Homo sapiens: one gene and its partners. The protein of the gene in region 5 purifies or fractionates together with the protein of the main gene of each other region. This does not show direct contact. Each region holds a gene or a part of one and is shown on either strand. Other genes may lie near its edges.

Region 1 (3,695 bases), on a different chromosome or scaffold from region 5:
TGAGCCCAGCTATCTACACTTTGTATGTCCACAGCTGCCTCTACTGCCGTGTGGCCAAAGGGAACTGCCGTGTGTGTAGATGGCCTGGCAGAGCAGCCCAGTCCCCTCCCCGCACCCAGGTCCTTTGTGGTGTGGCTCTGCAGCTCACCCCAGGTGGCCTGCACTTCTCTGTGCTGGACTTGGGACCTGCTTTGGCTAACAGAACGTGGTAAAGTCCAGGACCTAGGCTGTGAGTGGCCCTGTGACCTCCACTCTCTCAAAGCCCTGGGGCTGCCATGAGGACGCACCCAGGCCAGCCTGCTGGAGGATGAGAGATTGATGGAGCAAAGACAAGCTGGCACAGCTGGGGCCACCCTAGATCATCCTGCTCCCAGCAGAGCCTGCAGCCAACTCACGCCCTTTTGAGAACTAATGAAGGGCTGGTGCTGGAGACATGAAGCTGGGCCTGGAAGGGCCAGTAGCTCTGCAGCAGCAGCTAATACTCCATTTGCACGTCCACACCCTACTTCTCCCCTTCATGGGGAAGCTGGGCATCAGGCTTGTCACCTCCCTCTCCCTCATCATCAAGTCCCATGGATTCTGTGCCAACTCAGTCTCTGAGGTGTATGTCTCCATTTGCAGCATTCCCAGTCCCTTTCCTGCCTCAATCTTCACGGTGCTACAGGGATCCCTGTTATATGAGGAATCCTTCTAGGATTTTATCTGAAATAAAAGTTCTCTTGCTCAAAGCCTAGTATACAAGTCCCACCACTAAACAGTTGCTACAAAGCTCCCCCGATCTTTTGAGGCCTGGCTTAAATGTCACCTCCTCCTGGAAGTCTTCCTAGATTTCTCCCTTGTTCAGACAGGATGAACCTCTTCCACAGTGCATACTCTCTCCTTCCCGTCTGGTCTCCCTAACTGTGGCCAAGAACCACAGTTTTGCTGTCCGTCCCACTCAAGGGTGAGCCCCTTGGGGGGCTGGGCAGTGCTGGGGTAGGAGAAAGAACATAGGACATGGAGCAAGAAAGCCAAGGCATTAAGTCCTGGGACTGTCCACGCCATGCTGTGTGCTGTGGGTGAGGCAGCCAATCTGTGAAGATGGCTGGAAACAACATGGTTCTGTAGCAGGGCTGGGAGTGGAGCGGGCGCTAAGTTAATCACTGTGGAAGGAGGAATGTGACTCGTGGCAGCTATTATGGGGAGTGCGGCCACATGCCTGGGCAAGTGGCAGGGTCCATGTTAAACTCTGGCTCACACTGCTCAGAGTGGGAGCGTGAAGCCAGTGAGAATCCTCCACGTCCCTGCTCCAGCAAGCCCCTTCCCCGCTGGGTCCCGGCAGCTCAGCCCCTGCCAAGCAACTGTCAGCACTCAGAGTCCTCTGTGTCCTCCCTGGGGCAGCTTGGCTGGGCTGACACTGGCTGGGGACCCACCAGGCAGGTGGGGTACAGGCTGTGGTCCCCTGTCCAGGCAAAGCCAGCAGGGCATCAGGTGAGGACGGGAGGCAGTAGCTGGGGCTGCTAGGAGAGCGACGGGAGCCTGGGGGGGCCTGGACTCTGTCCACTGGGAGGTGGGTTATGACTTCGCCTCTTTCCAGGCCAGAGTTGGGAGGGATTGAGGGTGACGGGGAGAGGTCACAGAGGCTGGACCCAAAATAGGACTGAGGCAGCACCGTGTGGGGAGAGGTCACAGAGGCTGGACCCAAAATAGGACTGAGGCAGCACCGTGTGGGTAGTGTTCATTATTTCACTCTCCTCCCAGCAGCTCTGCAGAGAAGGGGCTATTATCATCTCCATCATACAGGTAGGGAAACTGTGTGCAGAGGTATCAACCAACTTGCTCAAGACCACACATTAAAAACGCTACTAGGGGCCGGGCACAGTGGCTCACGCCTGTAATCCCAGCACTTTAGGCAGCTGAGGCGGGCGGATCACGAGGTCAAGAGATGGAGACCATCCTGTCCAAAGCAGTGAAACCCCATCTCTACAAAAAATACAAAAATTAGCTGAGCGTGGTGGTGCACGCCTGTAGTCCCAGCTACTTGAGAGGCTGAGGCAGGAGAATCGCTTGAACTCGGGAGGCGGAGGTTGCAGTGAGCCAAGATCGCACCACTGCACTCCAGCCTGGTGACAGAGTGAGACTCCGTCTCAAAAATAAATAAATAAATAAATAAATAAATAAATAAATAAAAATAAAAACACTACTAGGAGCCAGCATGGCTGCGCACATCTGTGGTCTCAGCTGCTCAGGAGGCTGAGGTGGGAGGATGATTGAGCCCAGGAGGTTAAGGCTGCAGTGAGCCACGACTGCACCCCTGCACTCTAGCTTGGGTGACAGAGCAAAACTCTGTCTCAAACAAGAACGAAAACCACCCCACCCCCCACCACTAGGGTTTGAATCCAGGCCAAAGTTGGCCCCATATCTCCCAAAATATTGTTGTCCCCAATGACTAATATTGTACCATAAGCAATTGCTTTCTCTGGATGAAATAAGGAATGTCTCTGAGCCTCAGTTTCCCCACCTGGTCGATAAAGGTAAGGGCTCTTGGGTGGCTCCAGCCCATGCACGGTCATTCTGTGTGCCCAGTGATGGTAGGGGCTCAACAAATGCTTGCGGAACAAATGAATACATGAGTGAGAGGAAGGACCGGGGAGAGGATGCGGGGAGCCTGGGCCTACCTCCATACCCCATTACCCTGCTTCAAAACTTCCACAATTGCTCCATGGGTCTCAGTCTGTTTTGAACCTCATCACCCCCAACTCAGTTGGTTTTTGCTGTTGTAGTAGTGCCTTTCCCCTTGTCTCTGCTGAGTGAACTCCTATTTATCCTTCAAAGGCCCAACCTCCAATACCCCTTTCTCTCTGAGGCCTGAGATCCTCCCTGCCCCTTGGCAATGATGGCTCCGCAGACAGCATTCCACATTGTAATTTATGCTTCTATCTTCCCTCACTGCTCTGGGCACTCCTCAAGCAGGTGCCTGGGGAATGCCTCATTTCCATGTCCCTGGCATTGCCCAGCAGAGGTCTAGGCAGACAGAAGGATAAAAGAATTGCTGGGGCAAGAGAGGAGGGAAACTGAAGAGTGAGATGGGGCCTGGGTTTGGGGAGCTGTGCCCAGGGAGGGTCCCCCTGGACTGCTTGGATGGGCTCCAATGCCCTCCTGTTCCTGGGCGGGCTCGTACCTGCATCGCTGGCACACGGGTAGTGGTAGGTGTGGAGGCATCCTTTGTGGCAGCACCCAATGGTGGCCCCGGCTTCTTGGCAGCTGGAACACATCTGATGAAGAGAAAGGAAAGGCAGGTGAGTCTCCAGTTGGAGCCCAGCCCTCAAGCTTTACAGGCTGGTAGGCCAGGTGCAGTGGCTCATGCCTGTAATCCCAGCACTCTGGGAGGCCAAGGTGGGAGGATCGCCTGAGTCCAGGAGTTTGATACCAGCCTGGGCAACATGGTGAAACTGTCTCTACAAAAAATAGTGAGGGTTGGTGGTGTGTGCCTGTAGTCCCAGCTACTCAGGAAGGTGAGGTGGGAGGATTGCTGCAGCCTGGGAGGTTGAGGCTGCAGTGAGCCGAGATGACGCCACTGCCTGTACTCCAGCCTGGGCAAGAGTGAGACCCTGCCTCAAAAAACAAACAAACAAACAAACAAAAAAAACACAAAAAACCTGTACAGGCTGGCTGGCCCCCTGTGGTCCCTGCCTCCCTTCTCCAAAATGGTGCTT
Region 2 (3,695 bases), on a different chromosome or scaffold from region 5:
CTGGCATCTATGTGGGACACGGAGGTGACAGACACCGGGCAGCTGCCCAGGTCGCCCTCGGTCTCAGCTGAGTGGCCACAGGGACATTGGCCCCTCTTGCCCCAAGTCCCCAAACCCAGCCCATGTGTAACCACCTCAGACCCTGAATCCATTCACCCTCCCCAGGCCACCTTCGGGGATGGCATATCTGTCCCCTCCTGAGATCAATCCGGGCCTGGGGTCAGGAGAGGCCGCAGGGGCAGTCCTGAGGTCGGTGTCCCGCATGCACCTGGGTGCAGGTGCACGGCACAGAGGGCACAGAGCCCAGGAGGGAGAGAACAGGTGCAGGGTGCGGGGTTACCTGAGGTCGAGGCACGGGGAGCTGGAGCCCGTCTGCACCAGCAGCAGCCTCTCTTCCTGGAGCGCAGAGCTGCCAGATACAAGGTGGTCAGTGCCCCCAGGAGCTCCCAGTTCAGTGACAATCCCCATGGCCCACTCTGCCCAGCTGGTGCCCCTCCCCATCAAGGCCCCCCCAGCACTGCCCGCCAACACTCACTGCACGACAGGGTCCATGCCCGCAATACGCTCTGCCACGATGAGGGACTCGCTGTGGGTCACGTCGTTCAGGGCGGGGCCTGAGTTGCACGCCAGGATGACCTGCAGGAGGAGGGCCCAGGCTCTTTAGGAACCTGTGCTGGCCCAGCATGGAGCCTGCGTGCACCCCGGCCTTCGAGTGGCTGGGCTGGGTGAGGGTGCTGTGCCCAGCGGGCCTGGCCAGCCACCTGCTGCTGAGGAGCAGGGACCTCGCCTGACCTTGCCACTCTGTGGCCCCTGGGAGGGAGCTGAGCCGAGGGGCAGAGCTGAGTTTAGAGCCTGCCCCTGGGACCTGCCTGTCTGTGAAGTCACAGCCCCAAAGCCTCCTTGCTGTGAGCACCCTTCCAGGAGCCTGGCGTCAACCCTGGGCTTCAGCACATGGACCCTCAGCCTGAGCCCAGGGGGCTCGGAGCCTCCACCCCAGCAGATGACGGCTCTGGGCCGCCTCCCCCGTGCTGCTGCCTGCACCTACCTGCTGCGTCCGGAGGAGCCCCGACCACCGCCAGAGGCCCACAGCGGCGCCAACCCCACCGAGAGCAGAGAAGCCCAGGGGAAGGGCCCCACCCACCACCTCAACACTCACCTCTGTCCCTCTAAGGAGTAGCTCCCTGACAAAGGGGAAGACTCCCAAAATGATGTCTATTCCACTGTTATCTGCGAAAATTAAGGCACATTTATGAGGGGGCCCCTGTAAGACAAAACCAGGACGTTCAGTTGGGAACAGGCGCATCCAAGCGAGTCAGTCCGCACCCCTGCTGCCCGTCACGCTGCCCTGCAGGGGCCGAGACTGGGGGCTTCAGGGCCCCAGAGATGCCAGGGATGGGCTGTCCTGCAGGGGCCGAGACCAGGGGCTTCAGGGCCCCAGAGGTGCCGGGACTGGGCTGGGCTGCAGGGGCTGAGACCGGGACTTCAGGACCCCAGAGGCACCGGGACGGGCCAGCCTGCAGGGGCTGAGACTGGGGCTTCAGGACCCCAGAGGCGCCAGGGACGGATTGGCCTGCAGGGGCCAGTGCCTGTCTCTTCTGGCAAGGCTTTGTGCCTAGAGCAGGTGACCTAAGAAGCAGTCACGACAGGAGGGCAAGTGTGGGGCAGGGGATGCTGAGACCCTTGGCTCGCAGGATGGTGAGACTCTAACAGGAGGGGAGGGCCACCCGAGGCAGCCCATGCCCACCTCCCTCCAGTGACCACCCCCCCGGGCCCCGCTGTGTCCCCAGCAGCAGAGGTGGGAGGCCCCTCCACATACCTTTAATCTCTGAAGCCACTCGCTGTAGGAATCCACGAGCCAGGGTCTTTCTGAGACAGAGAGAGGGACACATGATTAGCCCGGTGCTCCAGGTCAGGGGTCAGGGAGACGCGTCTTCAGGTGTTCGTCTCTCCAGGAAGCAAGTTCTCCCCGCCCCCGAAGCCCAGCTGACAGAGCCTTGAGCAGGGGAGGTGCCTGGACCCCGACCGCAACTGCATTCGCTGTTGCAGAGAACGTCCAGGCATGGCCCCAGCACAAGGCAAGGCCCCAAGTTACTTGGCCATCCGTACCTTGTAACTTCCTCTTTGCTTCTTCAAACCCAAAGTAGGGGTCGGATTCAAGGACACTGCATGGAGGAGGAGAAAAGAAAATTAAGACAACAGAACAAAAACCTTCAGCCACAGTGCTCAATGTGAAGACCCCAAATCCCTCCCAGGCGGGACAGAGGCAGCTGCTCAATGTAAAGATCCCAAATCCCTCCCAGGTGGGACAGGGGCAGCTGCTCAACGTGAAGACCCCAAATCACTCCCAGGCAGGACAGAGGCAGCTGCTAAGACCCCAAATCCCTCCCAGGTGGGACAGAGGCAGCTGCTCAACGTGAAGACCCCAAATCACTCCCAGGCAGAACAGATACAGCGTTCTTAACATGCTGCGATCCGCAGAAGGCTCAGGGGGCCACCAAGCAAAGGTCTGAGAGAGCACAGGCTGTTTCTCAAGGTGGACTCGGAGCCACGGGGCCAGGGAAGCCTCTCGGTGACTGGCAGCCGCAGTATGGTCCCTGTGCTTGGCACCCATGCAGGCGGTGTGGGGAGCCCCCAGCCACAAGGCCAATCCCATGGGTCAGGACCCTCCTCCAATGCTCCTGACAGGCTGCGGGAGGGGCCTGTGTCCCAGAGGGGCAGCCATGGTTGGAGGCGGCGTTCTCATCTATGTCTCGAGACACGAGTGGGACCCAGGGAGGGCTGAGAACCCAGGCATTTCCCTCCAGCCCCACATGAAAAAAAGCAGGGACCACGAGAGGTGGTGCGGCCGCCTGGGGAGGCCCAGAGACTGGAAGCAGCTTCTTTGGGAGTGAAGGTAAATGATGGTGGGGGGGTTCATTTTCAAGATTCAGAGCCCCAGGAGACGGCGCCAGGTGCTAGACACCTGCGTGTCCTACAGGCCAGTCTAGGGGACTGCTTTGCAAAGCACCCTTTGATCATCACATCAGAAATGTTTAATTCCTACCACACATAGGAAACATGAATTTGGATTCTGACAATAGAAAATGCCAGCCCCGATTTTCAAATCCACACCCTTAGGCCTCTGCGGCACCCATGCTTAAGGAAGGGGCCTCCTCAGAACCTGAGGGGACAGACAAGGGCGCTGCGCCCTGCCCAGCCCCTGGCGCTGCTGCCATGTGCACTCCCTGGGCCCCAAAGCCCTGAGCCACCAAGCCACCAAGCGCCACGTGACCCCCAAGGGACCCGCTCCACCTCCTTGCCCGCAAGCCTGGGGCAGGACAGGCACCCACAGGCTGCAGAGCCTGCTCCGAGCCCGCAGACACCTACGCAGACACGGCTTTGGCCCCCCAGTCGAAGACATTCCCCGCCAGGAGGCCTTTCACCAGCGCCAGCTGCCGTTCCTCCCAGCCCAGCGCGTCCAGGGAGCGCACGACCCCGGGGAAGCACCTCAGCGCCACGCCATTCTCCCGCTGCTTCACCTGTGGAGAGTGCCAGATGCCAGGCCTGAGTGAAGACGTGGCCTCAGCCCACCCTGGACACCTGCCAGGCGCAGCCTGTTCCATACCACGCCCCTCAGGATCGAAGACTCAGGCCCAACTGGGACCCCACCAGGCACAAGCCTATCGGTCCGGGACAGTGGCCAGCGCACAGCTGCA
Region 3 (3,500 bases), on a different chromosome or scaffold from region 5:
GCCGAGGGGGTTGGATCACGAGGTTAGGAGTTCGAGACCGGCCTGGCCAACATGGTGAAACCCCATCTCTACTAAAAATACAAAACTTAGTCAGGCGTCGTGGCATGCGCCTGTAATCCTAAATACAGGGAAGGCTGAGGCAGGAGAATTGCTTGAACTAGGGAGGCGGAGGCTGCAGTAAGCCAAGATCGTACCACTGTACTCCAGCCTGGGCGACAGAGCAAGACTCTGTCTAAAAAAAAAAGGGGGGTTCTGGATAATTTTATCTTCTATTATAATAACAACTAAATGTATAAGCAGCATAAACCTGTTTCAACCTCAGTGTGAGGATATTTCTTAAATACATTTGTGTATGCATAATGATCGTTGCTACTTTATAATCCAGAACTCTGCAATGTTTCTGAGCAATAACTCTATGAGAAGGACAGTAACAAAGAGCATTTAGTCATTTATCCTCTCGGGGTATCCATTCCCTCACCATGAAAATGAGGAATTAGATTCAGTGATTTCTACATATGTGGACAATGTATAGGAAATAGGACTAGATCTGTCTAGACTCAAAACAGACCCCAAAGACTTTCTACTTTGTATAACTTCCTGATGTTAAACTTACAAGCACGATTGATTTTATTTCTCTTCGTTCACTTTTCTTCCCCCATCATTTATCTTAGTCTCAAATATTCTTCACTACCTCTCACTCTCCCTCATTTTCCTGTTTACCCCTTTTTCTCTGCTAGCCTCCATTTGCACTTACCTTCTGTTGAACTGCAGCGCTCATAGATTGTTTTTCTGTTGTTTTTTGTTTGTTTGGTTTTTGAGACAGAGTCTCGCTCTGTCACCCAGGCTGGAGTGCAATGGCATGATCTCGGCTCACTGCAACCTCTGCCTCCTGGGTTCAAGTGATTCTCCTGCCTCAGCCTCCTGAGTAGCTGGGATTACAGGCACCTACACCGGGCTAATTTTTGTATTTTTAGTAGAGACAGGGTTTCACCATGTTGGTCAGGCTGGTGTCAAACTCCTGACCTCACGATCTGCCCGCCTTAGCTTCCCCAAAGTGCTGGGATTACAGGTGTGAGCCACTGTGTCCGGCTAGATTGTTTTCTTATAGCTGCCTGGAACTGATGAATTGTGTACAGTCATCCTTTAGTTACTAATCAATCTTTCTAAAAATGGACTGTGGTATGTACCTAGTTTTGCATACATGGGGGACTGGTTGTAGAACCCCTCACAGACACCAATATCTAAGGATGCTCAAGTCGCTTGATATAAAATGGCATAGTATTTGTATATAACCTATGCAGATCCTCCCATATACTTTAGATAATCTTTACATTATTTATAATACCTAATACAATGTAAATGCTATGTAAGTAGCTGTCATCCTGCATTCTTTTTATCTGTATCATTTTTTAATGTTGTTATTTGTCTTTTTTTTTCCCAAATAATTTCAATCCACAGTTGGTTGAATTCTTAGATGCAGAATCCATAGATATGGAAGGTCGACTATATTTTCTGATAGTCTTTCTCAAAACACACATACACACACTCCACGCATAGAGTTCATTAAGAAGTCCAGTTAATTCAGATTTGCTATTTTTTTATTTTTTTAATTATTTTTTTTTTAAGAGATGGGGTCTCACTCTGTCACCCATGCTGGAGTGCAGTGGCATGATCATAGTTGGCTGCAGCCTCCAACTCCTGGGCTCAAGTGATCCTCCTGCCTCAGCCTCCTGAGTAGCTAGGACTACAGGCACACACCACCATGCCTAGCTAGATTTGCTGTATTTCAAAAAACTAAATTTTTAAGGTTTTCTCTAAAATTAATGACTCCAACTTCTTTTATCTTCAATTATTTTACACTATTTTAGGGATTTAAGTTGCTTTTTTCTTTTTTAAGAGACAGGGTCTGGCTGCCACCCAGGCTGGAGTGCAGTGGTGCTATCATAGCTCACAGTAACCACACACACCTGGGCTCAGACAATCCTCTCACCTCAGTCTCCTGAGCAGCTGGGACTACAGGTACATGCATCTATGCCTGGCTAAATTTTAAATTTTTTGTAGAGATGGGGCTTCACTATGTTGCCCAGGCTAGTCTTGAACTTCTGGTCTCAAGTGATCCTCCCACCTTGGCCTCCCAAAGTGCTGGGATTACAGGTGTGAGCCACTGCACCCAGCCTAAGTTGCTATTTTCTAAATACATTTTATTATCTTCACTTAAAAAAAGCATATACCATACTGAATACTTACAAAATAATGAACAAGGCTAAATAATCCAAATGCTCAACTAAAGGGGTCTGGTTATGTAAATTATGATGCGATAGCACCATAACTATTATTCCATTTGGTATTGCTAGATGGAGGTCTGTGTATTCACCATATGTACAGTCTACTAGAAACTGTAAATATAAAGATTTAGAATAAGCCAGTCCTCATACAGTATTCCTCAAATAGTATAATTCCTCATGTAGTATGATTTCAAATTTCTTCATTTTTTGGTGCTCGGAATCAAACAAAACTCCAGATAAAGCCTCATCAGCCCGAAAATGAGCAGGGCTACCAACTTGCTCATTTTGGAGACAAACTGCAGAACCCATGACACTAGCTATACTGGCACCCACATTATACTGTTGATTCACACTGAGTTTCCCATCAACGAACACTGTCCTTGTATCACTTCTCCCTCATTCCACACTTTATCACTGATTTTTCTGCAGCTGAGTATAGGATTGTGCCTCTTCTTTGTAAAAGATGATTCACCATTCCAGTCAGTCAGGATTTATCTGGACTCTGATTAAATCAATCAGTTAATTCCACAAATTCCTCCCAGGCTTGGGTCACTCACAAATTTTATCACCATGCCATCAGCACCCTGACGTTAAGGTACTGAAAGGAACAAAGTTAGGGATAGAGATACATGGCATATAAGTACAGACCTCTCTTCAGTCTGCCTGATTCTTTCAGTAGTAAGTCAGGTTTTTATTTCACCTAACTGGATTGCCATCAGTCCATCTCCATCTTGCTCACTAAGAGAGGCAGTAAAGCACATTTGCTAGCTAGAGAAGCAGACTTTGAAGCTAGGTCATCTGGATTCAAATTTCAGCTCTCCCATTTACTAGCTCTGTGGGCAAGTTCCTTAATCTCTTTATGCCCATGCTTCCACATCTGTAAAATGGGAATAGTACCTAATAATTGGTTAGGAGCATTAAGCTAGTTGGCCTATGTAAAACATCCAAAACAGTACCTGGTATATAATAAATTTGCTATAATAATGACTACTGTAGGTACCTCCTGCCAGCATCCTTCTGATGCTGCCTGTCTAGTATAGGTCTTGCTTTCTTTCTGAACTGATACTGTAGTGTAGTGGTCACTAGTTATGCCACCATGCCCAGCTAATTTTGTATTTTTAGTAGAGACGGGGTTTCACCATATTGGCCAGGCTGGTCTTGAACTCCTGACTTCAGGTGATCCACTTGCCTTGGCCTCCCAAAGTGCTGGGATTA
Region 4 (3,695 bases), on a different chromosome or scaffold from region 5:
GACAACTAGATGGCAGATAGGGAGGCAGTTTTGAGTAATGGCTAACATGTTTGGACCCTTTTCAGGCCCCAAACTAAAGAGTAACTGAGTAGTGGCTCTAGGACTTCTTCCCCTCCCTACAAGTTCACAGTTGCTGTATGTTTCTGGTGCTTACCCCTTCTGTTCATCTCAACACTTATTGAGGGCCCCTGCTACATATTGGAGCCATAGAAATATAAGAGAAGGTGGTCCTGTGCAAGGAGGTATGGAGACGTGTCAGATGAGGTGAACGTGAGGCAAGACCAGCATGGTGCACATGAGTTGACATCAAGTGGAGAGAGAGTCAGATAAGGCTCTTTCACCTCTCTTTAGCATGGAGACTGTCACTTTCATCTTGGAAGGTATTGTTCTGCCTGCTGTAGTTTATGAGACATGGATAGTCCTTGAGGCCACACTGAAGCTTCAAAGCTGAGCTCTGTTGGGTAATTGGAAGGTGCTCTTTGCTCCTCTATGCTCAGAAAGTACATTAAAAAAACACAAGATACCTCTTATTGCCCGGTTTACTTGAAAATGTTGCCTTCAGTATACTTAATACGGTTAACCATGCTGGGAAAGGTATTGCAGGATTTGGATTCTGGTTCCCAGGGACTTATGGGTGCACTGTCAAGAATGCACCCTTGATAACCATAGCAGGCACTATGGTTCCTATGGAGAATCTGACACACACTCCTCCTGTACTAATTCACAGGGCTATGTGCTGAGTTGTACAAGCTTTTACTCTGTGCAGTGAGTGTATCCCACCCAATCACTTAACCTGCACAGCCTTTCATTCTCAGCACATTCTCCTAGCTGGCCTTAAGTCCAGCTCTGATCTTTCTTCGAGACTCCAGGGTTAAAAGTATTCATGGAGGCTCTGGCCCTTCGTTTCCTTCTGTAGTTTAAAGAAAGATGAGTTTAGCTTCTCTGGCTATTTTCAGCAAGAAAGTTCTTAGATGTGGAGATGGCAAGAAATATTTCTTCCAGTTTGGCCTGACTGGCTGACCTAGACTGACCTTAGCCCCACTTCAAGAATTCCATGATTCCTCATAATTATGGCATGGATTCCTACTGACCATTTTTGCTGTCCCCCTTAGGAAGAATTATTTGAAACATTTAAGCTATTGTAATGAGGCAAAGTCTGCATAAGGCAGTGAGAATTAGGGAAAGGCTTGGATTCATTTATTCAGCAAATACTGAGTTTGTACTATATGTTGGCCAGTACCCTACTGTACTGGAGATGGAGCAGTGAATAAAACAGACAAAAAGTATGGAGTATTTATTTCTAGGGCACTTTTTTTAAAAAGGCAGTTATGCTTTTAGAATGTGAAATCCCTTGGGGAGCCACCGTAGGTTGGATGGTAAGTAGAATATCAATTTTGTGTGTTATTGCTGAAATGCCTAGGACAGTTCTGTTAATTTAGATTTTCTTTTCAGGGTCATTTGCTGTTAACTTGTAATATCCTTGAAGAAAAAAAGATTTCCCCAAAATATCAATTTCTACACAGTTTCTCTGTAAATTTTCTAAACTTTGAAATTAAAAGAAAAAGTAATGCACTTTTAATTCTGGTTAAATCCTTTGAACATATACTACTAGATAAATGTGTTTGTTTTGTTATAGGTAAAAAGAAGCCTTTCTTGTTAACTGCCAAGATTTGTAGTCATTTTCATTTCTAACATAGCAGCAAGATGGGGAACTCCTGCTATTTTGGTTTCTACACAATTGCATAAGTCTCTTCTTGTATTAACTTAAAAGCTTTAGTTCCATTTTTAAGGAGCTGGAGTCAGACTGAAGACTAGCTCTTAAATAGCACCTCAATGTTCTTGCTGTTGATTTTGTCATAAAAGTAGAGGTTTTAATTTGGGATAAAGCCTAAGTTGATCTTCATTTCCCTTACTTATTCACCACACCCTTAGTTGGGAGAAGCCGTTTATTTGAACAGTATACCTACCCCTTTTTAGAAACACTTCCTCTTGAGTGTCATCGTGCCCAGGGGACTTGGGATATGTTTCACTGTGCTTACCTGGAGAAGGTGATGGGAATCATACATTATAGTCATTCAACAAAGTAAGGTATATTAAGAATAGATTTTTAAAAATCAACTTCGTTTTATATAATCACCAAAAAATATGTATATTTTCCCATTCCCTTTGTAGCCCACAAGACGGTCTGCCAGATTGTCAGCGGTAAGTACCTTAGAACCACTTCAGTGTTAGTTCTTATGAGTACATGTTCCCTTTGTCCAAAGTGAAGCAGCAAAAGGAAGATTAACATGGTTTCCCATGAGCTTATTTTCTTTTTGAAAATTACCTAGGGTCCTCATGTCTAGCAAATTTGACCAGTGTTGCCAAGCAATTCACTTGATCAAATGTGTCAGAAAAACAGTGGCCAGCCCCATAACGAAGAATATAAAGCAGGATGTTGTTTGACATTGCTAGATCTCTGAAACAAAAGTAGTATATTAGGCAAAGTTCCAGTCTTCAGATTGTACCTATGATGTGCTGAAGTGGACAGAATTCTGATTCTCTGTCCACAACTCATACTTTAGAATGTATGTATGAGAATGTTCTGAAAGTTGTCTGAGTCCATATACTGTAGCCTCATTTCAGACCTAAAGAATCTTTGTAATAGTAATAATTCTACTTTGCTATTTGGTGTCTCCTTCTGTGGGCCAGGAGATTCTTGTGGGGTTAGGATACAAGCTGAGATGGGCAGATGTGGCTGAGCCTCTGAGGTGGACATCCTTCAGCTCTTCCTCACCAACCTGTGCTCCTTACTGGTTCTTATGCTCTTCTCTTTTGCTGCTCTCCTGAGAGATTAGCTGGACTCTAGTGGAGGATTTTGGTTAAAATTCCTGCAGCCCAGACTTCCCACTGAGAAGGTAGAGGGAAAGGCATTGGCATTTTGGCTGACACTATATTAGTATATCCCCATACTAGCTATTACAGAAGCTTCATGCTACTTTGGTCTTCAGGAAAGCATGGATTTCATTCTCAACCCAAATCTGTGCCTGATACAATATAAGGAATCAAAGCAAAAATGGGTATTAGGACCACTCACAAGTTCAGAAATACAGCTGTTTGGATCAGGCAAGCCAGTGTTTCACGTGAGTCTCGTAAGGAAGTATATTAGTCTGTTTTCACACTCACTGCTGATAAAGACATACTCAAGACTGGGCATTTTACAAAAGAAGGAGGTTTAATTGGACTTATAGTTCCATGTGGCTGGGGAAGCCTCACAATCATGGTGGAAGACGAGGAGCAAGTCACATCTTATGTGGATGGCAGCAGGCAGAGAGAGAGCTTCTGCAGGGAAACTCCCATTTTTAAAACCATCAGATCTCACCAGACTCATTCACTTTCACAAGAACAGCACAGGAAAGACCCGCCCCATAATTCAATCACATCCCACCAGGTTCCTCCCATGACACATGGGAACTGTGGGAGTTATAATTCAAGATGACATTTGGGTGGGGACATAGCCAAACCATATCATTCTGCCCCCAGCCCCGCCCAAATCTCATGTCCTCACATTTCAAAACCAATCATGCCTTCCCAACAGTCCCCCAAATCTTAATTCATTTCAGCATTAACTCAAAAGTCCAAAGTCTCATCTGAGATAAGGCAATTCCCTTCCACTTGTGAGCCTGTAAAATCAAAAGCAAGTTAGTTACTTCTTG
Region 5 (3,695 bases):
GGAGGCTGAGGCAGGCGGATTGCTTGAGCCCAGAAGTTCAAGGCTGCAGTGAGCTACAATTGCACCACTGCACTCCAGCCTGGGTGACAGAGTGAAATCCTATCTCTAAAAAATACAAACAAAAAAAGGAATGAAGAAGTGGAGGAAGCAGCCACAGGGCATAGGATGAGGACCACAGTGGGAAACAGACACACCCAGTCTCAGGTCAACACCACATGGCCCATTCTTAGAGCAGCTCAGATGTGCACGGTGCTGCCCCCCAAGGGGACAGCCCCCATCAGTAGGGAGATGGGAATAATTGCTGGGCTCCCATGGGACAAAGTGTCAGGAATGAACCCCCTAAGTAGAGTCAGTGGTGAGGGTCATTAGCTTCCTTTTGAGGATCTTCCCAAGCTTGAGATTCTGAACTGGAGTGGATGCCCTTCAGGATGAGATCGGAGGGCCTATTTGCACTGGGTTCCTGGAAGAGCCAAGTGCTGGAGGAGGGGAGGGCCCTGCCTGGCAGGAGGCTGGGAGAGAGACTCGGCCTCCCAGAGGCCTTCAAGGTACACAGAACTGGGGAGTAATGAGAAACCAGGCATGGGAGCTAGCTAGAGGGGAGGGAGAGGGACTCCCGAGTGGGAAGAGCAGATGCCTCACTACAGAGCTGAGGAGATAATACCTGGCGAACCGCAGATCCTAGCTCAGGAGGGATGTGCCACACTCAGAAGCCTCTAAGCTGAGCCTCAGGAATGATGACTAAGGCAGCCCAAAGACTCTGCAGGGCCCTTCAGTGAAAGCAAAATGCCAGGCAGGGTGTCTCTGCAACCCCAAAGGACAGAAGGAGGGAGCAACAGGATCCCTTTTACTGGAGAGGACACTGATGCCCAGAAAGGCACAGCCTTATCGAAGGCTGCACAGCTGCCAATGGCAGAATACCACAGTGGCAGAACACCCAGGTTGCTGGGTTTTTGAAGTCAATGCCAAGAGGAAGCTACTGAAGGGGGACAGAAGGGTCCTTAGCAGCTGCAATCACACCCAAGCTCATGGCCTTCCCCACGAGGCTTTCACAGACACACCCCTCAGCCATTATCCTAAATTCCCAGTCAGGAGAGAAACTAGCAGGCTTCAACCTCTTGTAAGGCCCTTGAGGTCACCTGGTGGCTGCCAAAAGTCAGGGCACCAGTCAAGGACTGATCCTGTGCCAGGCACTTCAGTACATGATCTTGATCCTCATACGACTCTTGAGGAAGATATTTACAGCTTCATTTTCACACAGGACTTGCAGAGGCCTGGGACAGCTGGCTGAGCTGCGCTGGGCTGGACTGCCTTCTGGCCGGCACAGGCTCGCAGCCCCCTTCCAGTCCCCATGGCCACGACATTACAGATGGATGCAGGTCAGGAATGGTCAGATCAGTGGGGTAAGGGAAGTCTCCCCAGGGTGTGGTGCTCTGGAAGAGGGGAATGGAGGGCAACCCTCTGTATCCTGCACCATTACCTCAAGTGTTATGCTCAGGTCTGAGCCTGTTGTCCTATTTCCCCTGATATCATGTATCAATTGGTGAAAACAAATTCTGTGTGGCTTTTTAAAGGCTACTGGAGGGCCATTGGGGAATGAGACAGAAATAAACAGCCACAGCTCCCAGCCAGCTGGGGACCTTAGCATCCCACAGGCCAACTGCTGGCCTGTATTCCCCGTGACACAAGGCCCAGCCAGTGATGTTACCGTTCTCTCCTCGAAAGCTCCTTTGGCCCGTCCAGATCCAGTTGTGTGACCTTTTTGGTTGTCTGTGCCACCCGGTTGGGGTTCTCGATGTCGATGAGCCCTTCAACGCCTTTGCGCTTTTGCTAGAACAGGGCAAGAAGCTGGTTGTTGGAGTTCAGGTCCTGTGGAGCCCCTGAGGGCCACTCCTGCCATCTCTCAACAGCCCATCTGGATGAGGACAAACTCCTGCTCCACCCCAGCCCACGTAGTGCTCAGCCCAAGTCTCACAGTGGGTATAGCTCTCTGGAGCATCTTCATCAGCCTGGGAAGAGCCCACAGAACGGCTGCTCGGGGTCGAATAACTTGCCCAAGTCAACCAGGAAGTAGGTGGTAGATGAGAGGTGCGCCCTACCCCGACTTGCAAGCACTCACACAGCACTACTCCCCTACTTCAAGCTCGGCTTCCAAAAGCAGTTTTCCATGGAATCCCATGCCTGATTCTTCTTGCAAAAAGCGCTGGGCTGGAATCCCCAGGGCAGGGTGGGCCAAGTGTGTGCTGTCATGACTAATTCCAATTCCCACCCACCTTAGCTGATGGACTGGACTTGTAACCCAAGAATAAGCTACTGGATCACACACTCTACAGGTTTGGGACGCTGGCCCAAAAACCTGGAATCTGCACCTTCCACCTCCCCTGCAGAAGTTCCAGAAGAAGGGGGTGTGTTCTCAATGCAGCAGGTTTGGTCAAAGTTTCAGGCCCTGTCAATTCCATCAATTCTCCTTAAGGGGGCAGGGAGACAGCTTCCACTCCACAGAGCTCCCTCCACACACTTCCAGTCCAGCTGCACACTTACACCTCCACTCAGATGCCTGGCACTGTAAACTTAACATGTCCAAGACAGAACTCGAGATTCATCCTTTACCCAACCGGACCCTCCCTGCAATCCTAAGCATATCCTTGATTCGTCGTTCCTTCAGCAACCCCCAAATACAGCTTAAATTTGTCCACTCTTCTCCACTGCCATTGTCACCATCCTAGGGCAAGCCACGATTTTTTTTCTTTTGAGACAGAGTTTCCCTCTTCTTGCCCAGGCTGGAGGGCAATGGCACAATCTCGGCTCACCACAACCTCGGTCTCCTGGGTTCAAGCAATTCTCCTGCCTCAGCCTGAGTATTTGGGATTACAGGCATGAACCACCACCCCCGACTAATTTTGTATTTTTAGTAGAGACAGGTTTTCTCCATGTTGGTCAGGCTGGTCTCGAAATCTCGACCTCAGGTGATCCGCCCGCCTTGGCCTCCCAAAGTGCTGGGATTACAGGTGTGAGCCACCACACCCGGCCCAGGATTTCTGATCTGAACACTGCTCTTACTCTCAACATCCTATCATTCACTCTCCATGAAGAAGCTAAAATAATCTTTTTTTTTTTTTTTTGAGACGGAGTCTCACTCTGTCGCCCAGGCTGGAGTGCAGTGGCATAGTCTTGGCTCACTGCACTCCGCCTCCCGGGTTCACGCCATTCTCCTGCCTCAGCCTCCCAAGTAGCTGGGACTACAGGCGCCTGCCACCACACCTGGCTAATTTTTGTATTTTTAGTAGAGACGGGGTTTCACTGTGTTAGCCAGGATGGTCTCGATCTCCTGACCTTGTGATCCACCCACCTTGGCTTCCCAAAGTAAAATAATCTTTTAAAAGCATATCTGGAGGCTGGGCGCAGTGGCTCACGCCTGTAATCCCAGCCCTTTGAGAGGCCAAGGCAGGCAGATCACGAGGTCAGGAGATTGAGACCATCCTGGCTGACATGGTGAAACGCTACCTCTACGGTAGTCCCAGCTATTCGGAAGGCTGAGGCAGAAGAATGGCCTGAACCCGGGAGGCGGAGCTTGCAGTGAGCCGAGATCGCACCACTGCACTCCAGCCTGGGCGACAGAGAGACTCCATCTCCCAAAAAAAAAAAAAAAAAAAAGCATATCTGGTCATGTCTCTCAATCCCTTCAAGGCCTCCCCCAG
Region 6 (3,507 bases), on a different chromosome or scaffold from region 5:
TTAAATTTTTTCTCATTTTTAGAAACAGGGTCTTGCTCTGTTTCCCAGGCTGGCATGCAACAGTAGATCAGAGATCACTGCGGCCTGAAACTCCTAGGCTCAGCCGGGCGTGGTGGCTCATGCCTGGAATCCCAGTACTTTGGGAGGCCGAGGTGGGCAGGTCACCTGAGGTCAGGAGTTCGAGACCAGCCTGACCAACATGGTGAAACCCCGTCTCTAGTAAAAATACAAAATTAGCTGGTTGTGGTGGCGGGCGCCTGTCATCCTAGCTACTCAGGAGGCTGACGCAGGAGAATCACTTGCACTCCGGAGGCGGAGGTTGCAGTGAGCCACTGCACTCCAGCCTGGGCAACACGAACAAAACGCCATCTCAAAAACAAAACAAAACAAAACAAAACAAAACAAAACAAAACAAAACAAAACAAAACAAAACTAGTCTCAAGCAATCCCTCCACTTCAGCTTCCTTGGCAGCTGGGACTACAGGTGTGTGCCACCATATCCAGCTATTTTTTACTTTTATTTTTTGTAGAAATGGGGTCTCACTACATTGCCCAGGCTGGTCTTCAGCTCCTGAGTTCAAACGATCCTCCTGCCTCAGCCTCCCAATGTGCTGGGATTACAGGTATAAGCCACCGTGCTAGGCCTCAGCTTCTAATTATGCAGGAATGGTCAGTGCTTCTACAGACATTGACTGGAGGCCCCTCTTGGGTGTGAGCTGAAGGAAGGAAATTAAAAAGTACTACAGTGGCGGTGATCAAGTCATAGTACAGGCTTAGCGGCCTGAGAGACGCATATGAGGGCATGAGGCGGCTATCTGCCACCCGGGGACCCTGGCTGTCTCCACGCTGGTGAGGGTGCTGGCCCTACCATGCTTAGACGGAGATACACACAACCCCAGACTGCAGTGTCAAAAGGGAAAGAGCCCAGGGGGCAGGACTGGGGAAAGCCCCAGTGAACGGCTGCCGAGGGGAGACACCAGCTCCAGTGAGCTGGGGCAGGGGGCAAGAGCAGTGTTGTTTCCAAAACTGGGTTTCTGCTCTAAGTGGGCTGGAGTGATGCTGTACCCGGGTACAATCAGCTGCAATCTGCTTCTGGTGTTTTAGCACAGCTGCATAGACAACTTTCCAAAAACACAGGCACACGAGTTCCCTTTTTTTTTTTTTTTTTTTGGATACAGAGCCTCCCTCTGTTGCCCAGGCTGGAGTGCAGTGGCTCGATCTCGGCTCACTGCAACCTCCGCCTCCCAGGTTCAGGCGATTCTCCTGCCTCAGCCTCCTGAGTAGCTGGGACTACCGGCATGTACCACCATGCCCAGCTAATTTTGTCTTTTTAGTAGAGACAGGGTTTTGCCATTTTGGCCAGGCTGGTCTTAAACTCCTGACCTCAGGTGCCACCACTCCCGGCATATATACATATATCAGTAGAGACGGGGTTTCACCATGTTGGCCTCGAACTCCTGACTTCAAGTGATCCATCCACCTCAGCCTCCCAAAGTTCTAGGATTCCAGGCGTGAGCCACTGCGCCTGGCCTATTTCCCAATTATAAAGGGACATTGGTAACAGAGTTTCCGCATTTCAGGTAACTTAGAAGCTCCAATCCACAGCATTCTCTGATGATATGAGTCTTGTTCATTTCTTTATTTCCTATTTCAGTGCCTTAATCAGATGCAAGGCCAAGTAGAGGGAGAAACTCAGGTTGTCGGGGGCTTACACCTGGGAGGAGGCGGCAGGTACCAGGTATTAGACGTGGAAAAAGAATTTAGCATCAAAAAGGAACAACACTTTTTTTTTTTGAGACAGGGTCTCGCTCTGTCACTTAGGTTGGAGTACAGTGGTGCGATCATAGCTCACTGCAACCTCTACCTCCTGGGCTCAAGTGAGCCTCCCACCTCGGCCTCCTGAGGAGCTGGGACTACAGGTGTATGCCACCAGGCTCGGCTAATTTTTGTATCTTTTGTAGAGATGAGGTTTAGCCGTGTTGTCCAAGCTGGTCTCAAACTCCGAGCTTACGAGATCCTCCCGCCTCGGCCTCCCAGGGTGCTGGGATTACAGGCGTGAGCCACTGTGCCTGGCTGAGCAACACATCTTAGGGCAGACAGGTGAACAGACACTGTGGCCACACAGTGGGAAGACACCAACATGCTGAGAAAGCAAAACCTACCACTACCAACTACATGCAGCAACACGGGTGAGGCTCAGAGGCACAATGTTGCACAAAAGAAACCACACACAAGAGTACCCGACCTCGGATCCCGTTTAGACAAAGTTCAAAAGCAGATCAAACCACAGCGGTGGGGTTGGGACAGCGACTATCTTGAGTGTAACAACTGGGAGGGTTTGGTAGTATTCTGTTTTTTACCCATCTGGGTGCTGGCAACATAGGTGTGTTTAATGTCTAGAAATTAATGGGTACACTTTTTAAAAATAAAAAGTTAGAAACAGGCCAGTCATGGTGGCTCGCGCCTGTAATCCCAGCACTTTGGGAGGCCAAGGCTGGCGGGTCACGAGGTCAAGAGATCAAGACCATCCTGGCCAACATGGTGAAACCCCGTCTCTACTAAAAATACAAAAATTAGCTGGGCATGGTGGCATGCACCTGTATTCCCAGCTCCTCAGGAGGCTGAGGTGGGAGGCTCACTTGAGCCCAGGAGGTAGAGGCTGCAGTGAGCTATGATCGCACCACTGTACTCCAACCTAAGTGACAGAGCAAGACCCTGTCTCGAAAAAAAAAAAAAGTTAGAAACATCATCCAGTGATACAGAAGCCTAGTCCTAAGAGATTCAGTTCAGACAGAAACAAACTCAGGGTCCTGGCATTAATGGACAAAGACTTCCAGTGCTGTCAAACTTAGAAAGCAGCAGTGTCTCCCAAGCTAAGCTCCCAAACAAAGCCCTTGTGAGCGAGCGGCGAGACCTCTCTGGGTTTTCACAATCGATAAAGCTGGGCTTGGCAGGAACCTTCTTGGGGAACTCACGTGAGAACAGGAGGTCATATCTCAAGAGAGCCAACCTCTCTTGAAAATGACAGCCAGTTTTTCTTTTAGAATCTGTAGAATCTCTTTCCCCCTTTTTCTCAACTCTATAGGCTGCTGCCAGCTCCCTTCATCTAAAGAAGTGTTTCTGTATCTTTTTTCATTATTGCCCCACAAGAAGGCTTTTAAGATTTTTTTCCCTAATAGCCTCCCCAGCAAAATCTTAACATCACAGATGCACTGTATGTCTGCTCATGTACTGTATGTATAATTGTGTCTTATGCATAAAAGGAGTAAAATTCCTTCCACCCTCCCGAGAACCAATTTTCTCCCACTTCAGGGCAATATCATACTCATTGAGAATCCATGATCTGAGGTAACCATAAGATTTAATCTCCAAAAGGGATACCTCTAAAGAACAGAGGGCATTACGAATATTTATAACGGGGAAACAGGTTACCAGGAACCTCATACCAATGGCTCCCCCACTCTTTACCAACAGCAGCTGTGGGGACAGGAGTTTGTGGAAAGTATA

The links.
Region 1: the proteins of PDAP1 (region 5) and RAI1 purify together in Homo sapiens (affinity purification with mass spectrometry; one large-scale study listed by BioGRID and IntAct). This does not show direct contact.
Region 2: the proteins of PDAP1 (region 5) and PANK4 fractionate together in Homo sapiens (co-fractionation; one large-scale study listed by BioGRID). This does not show direct contact.
Region 3: the proteins of PDAP1 (region 5) and TDG fractionate together in Homo sapiens (co-fractionation; one large-scale study listed by BioGRID). This does not show direct contact.
Region 4: the proteins of PDAP1 (region 5) and HMGN3 fractionate together in Homo sapiens (co-fractionation; one large-scale study listed by BioGRID). This does not show direct contact.
Region 6: the proteins of PDAP1 (region 5) and KLHL36 purify together in Homo sapiens (affinity purification with mass spectrometry; one large-scale study listed by BioGRID and IntAct). This does not show direct contact.

What each region holds. Positions count from the first base shown.
Region 1 is NC_000017.11:17,803,315-17,807,009, reverse strand, and holds part of RAI1 (retinoic acid-induced protein 1), read right to left. Parts: intron 3,255-3,695; coding exon 3,161-3,254; intron 1-3,160. UniProt on the Homo sapiens protein: Transcriptional regulator of the circadian clock components: CLOCK, BMAL1, BMAL2, PER1/3, CRY1/2, NR1D1/2 and RORA/C. Positively regulates the transcriptional activity of CLOCK a core component of the circadian clock.
Region 2 is NC_000001.11:2,509,522-2,513,216, forward strand, and holds part of PANK4 (4'-phosphopantetheine phosphatase), read right to left. Parts: intron 3,519-3,695; coding exon 3,367-3,518; intron 2,163-3,366; coding exon 2,107-2,162; intron 1,867-2,106; coding exon 1,817-1,866; intron 1,262-1,816; coding exon 1,157-1,261; intron 637-1,156; coding exon 536-636; intron 410-535; coding exon 341-409; intron 1-340. UniProt on the Homo sapiens protein: Phosphatase which shows a preference for 4'-phosphopantetheine and its oxidatively damaged forms (sulfonate or S-sulfonate), providing strong indirect evidence that the phosphatase activity pre-empts damage in the coenzyme A (CoA) pathway.
Region 3 is NC_000012.12:103,968,872-103,972,371, reverse strand, and holds part of TDG (G/T mismatch-specific thymine DNA glycosylase), read right to left. Parts: intron 13-3,500; exon of another isoform or gene 1-12. UniProt on the Homo sapiens protein: DNA glycosylase that plays a key role in active DNA demethylation: specifically recognizes and binds 5-formylcytosine (5fC) and 5-carboxylcytosine (5caC) in the context of CpG sites and mediates their excision through base-excision repair (BER) to install an unmethylated cytosine.
Region 4 is NC_000006.12:79,207,054-79,210,748, reverse strand, and holds part of HMGN3 (high mobility group nucleosome-binding domain-containing protein 3), read left to right. Parts: intron 1-2,172; coding exon 2,173-2,202; intron 2,203-3,695. UniProt on the Homo sapiens protein: Binds to nucleosomes, regulating chromatin structure and consequently, chromatin-dependent processes such as transcription, DNA replication and DNA repair.
Region 5 is NC_000007.14:99,398,598-99,402,292, forward strand, and holds part of PDAP1 (28 kDa heat- and acid-stable phosphoprotein), read right to left. Parts: intron 1,828-3,695; coding exon 1,706-1,827; intron 1-1,705. UniProt on the Homo sapiens protein: Enhances PDGFA-stimulated cell growth in fibroblasts, but inhibits the mitogenic effect of PDGFB.
Region 6 is NC_000016.10:84,651,504-84,655,010, reverse strand, and holds part of KLHL36 (kelch-like protein 36), read right to left. Parts: intron 1-3,507.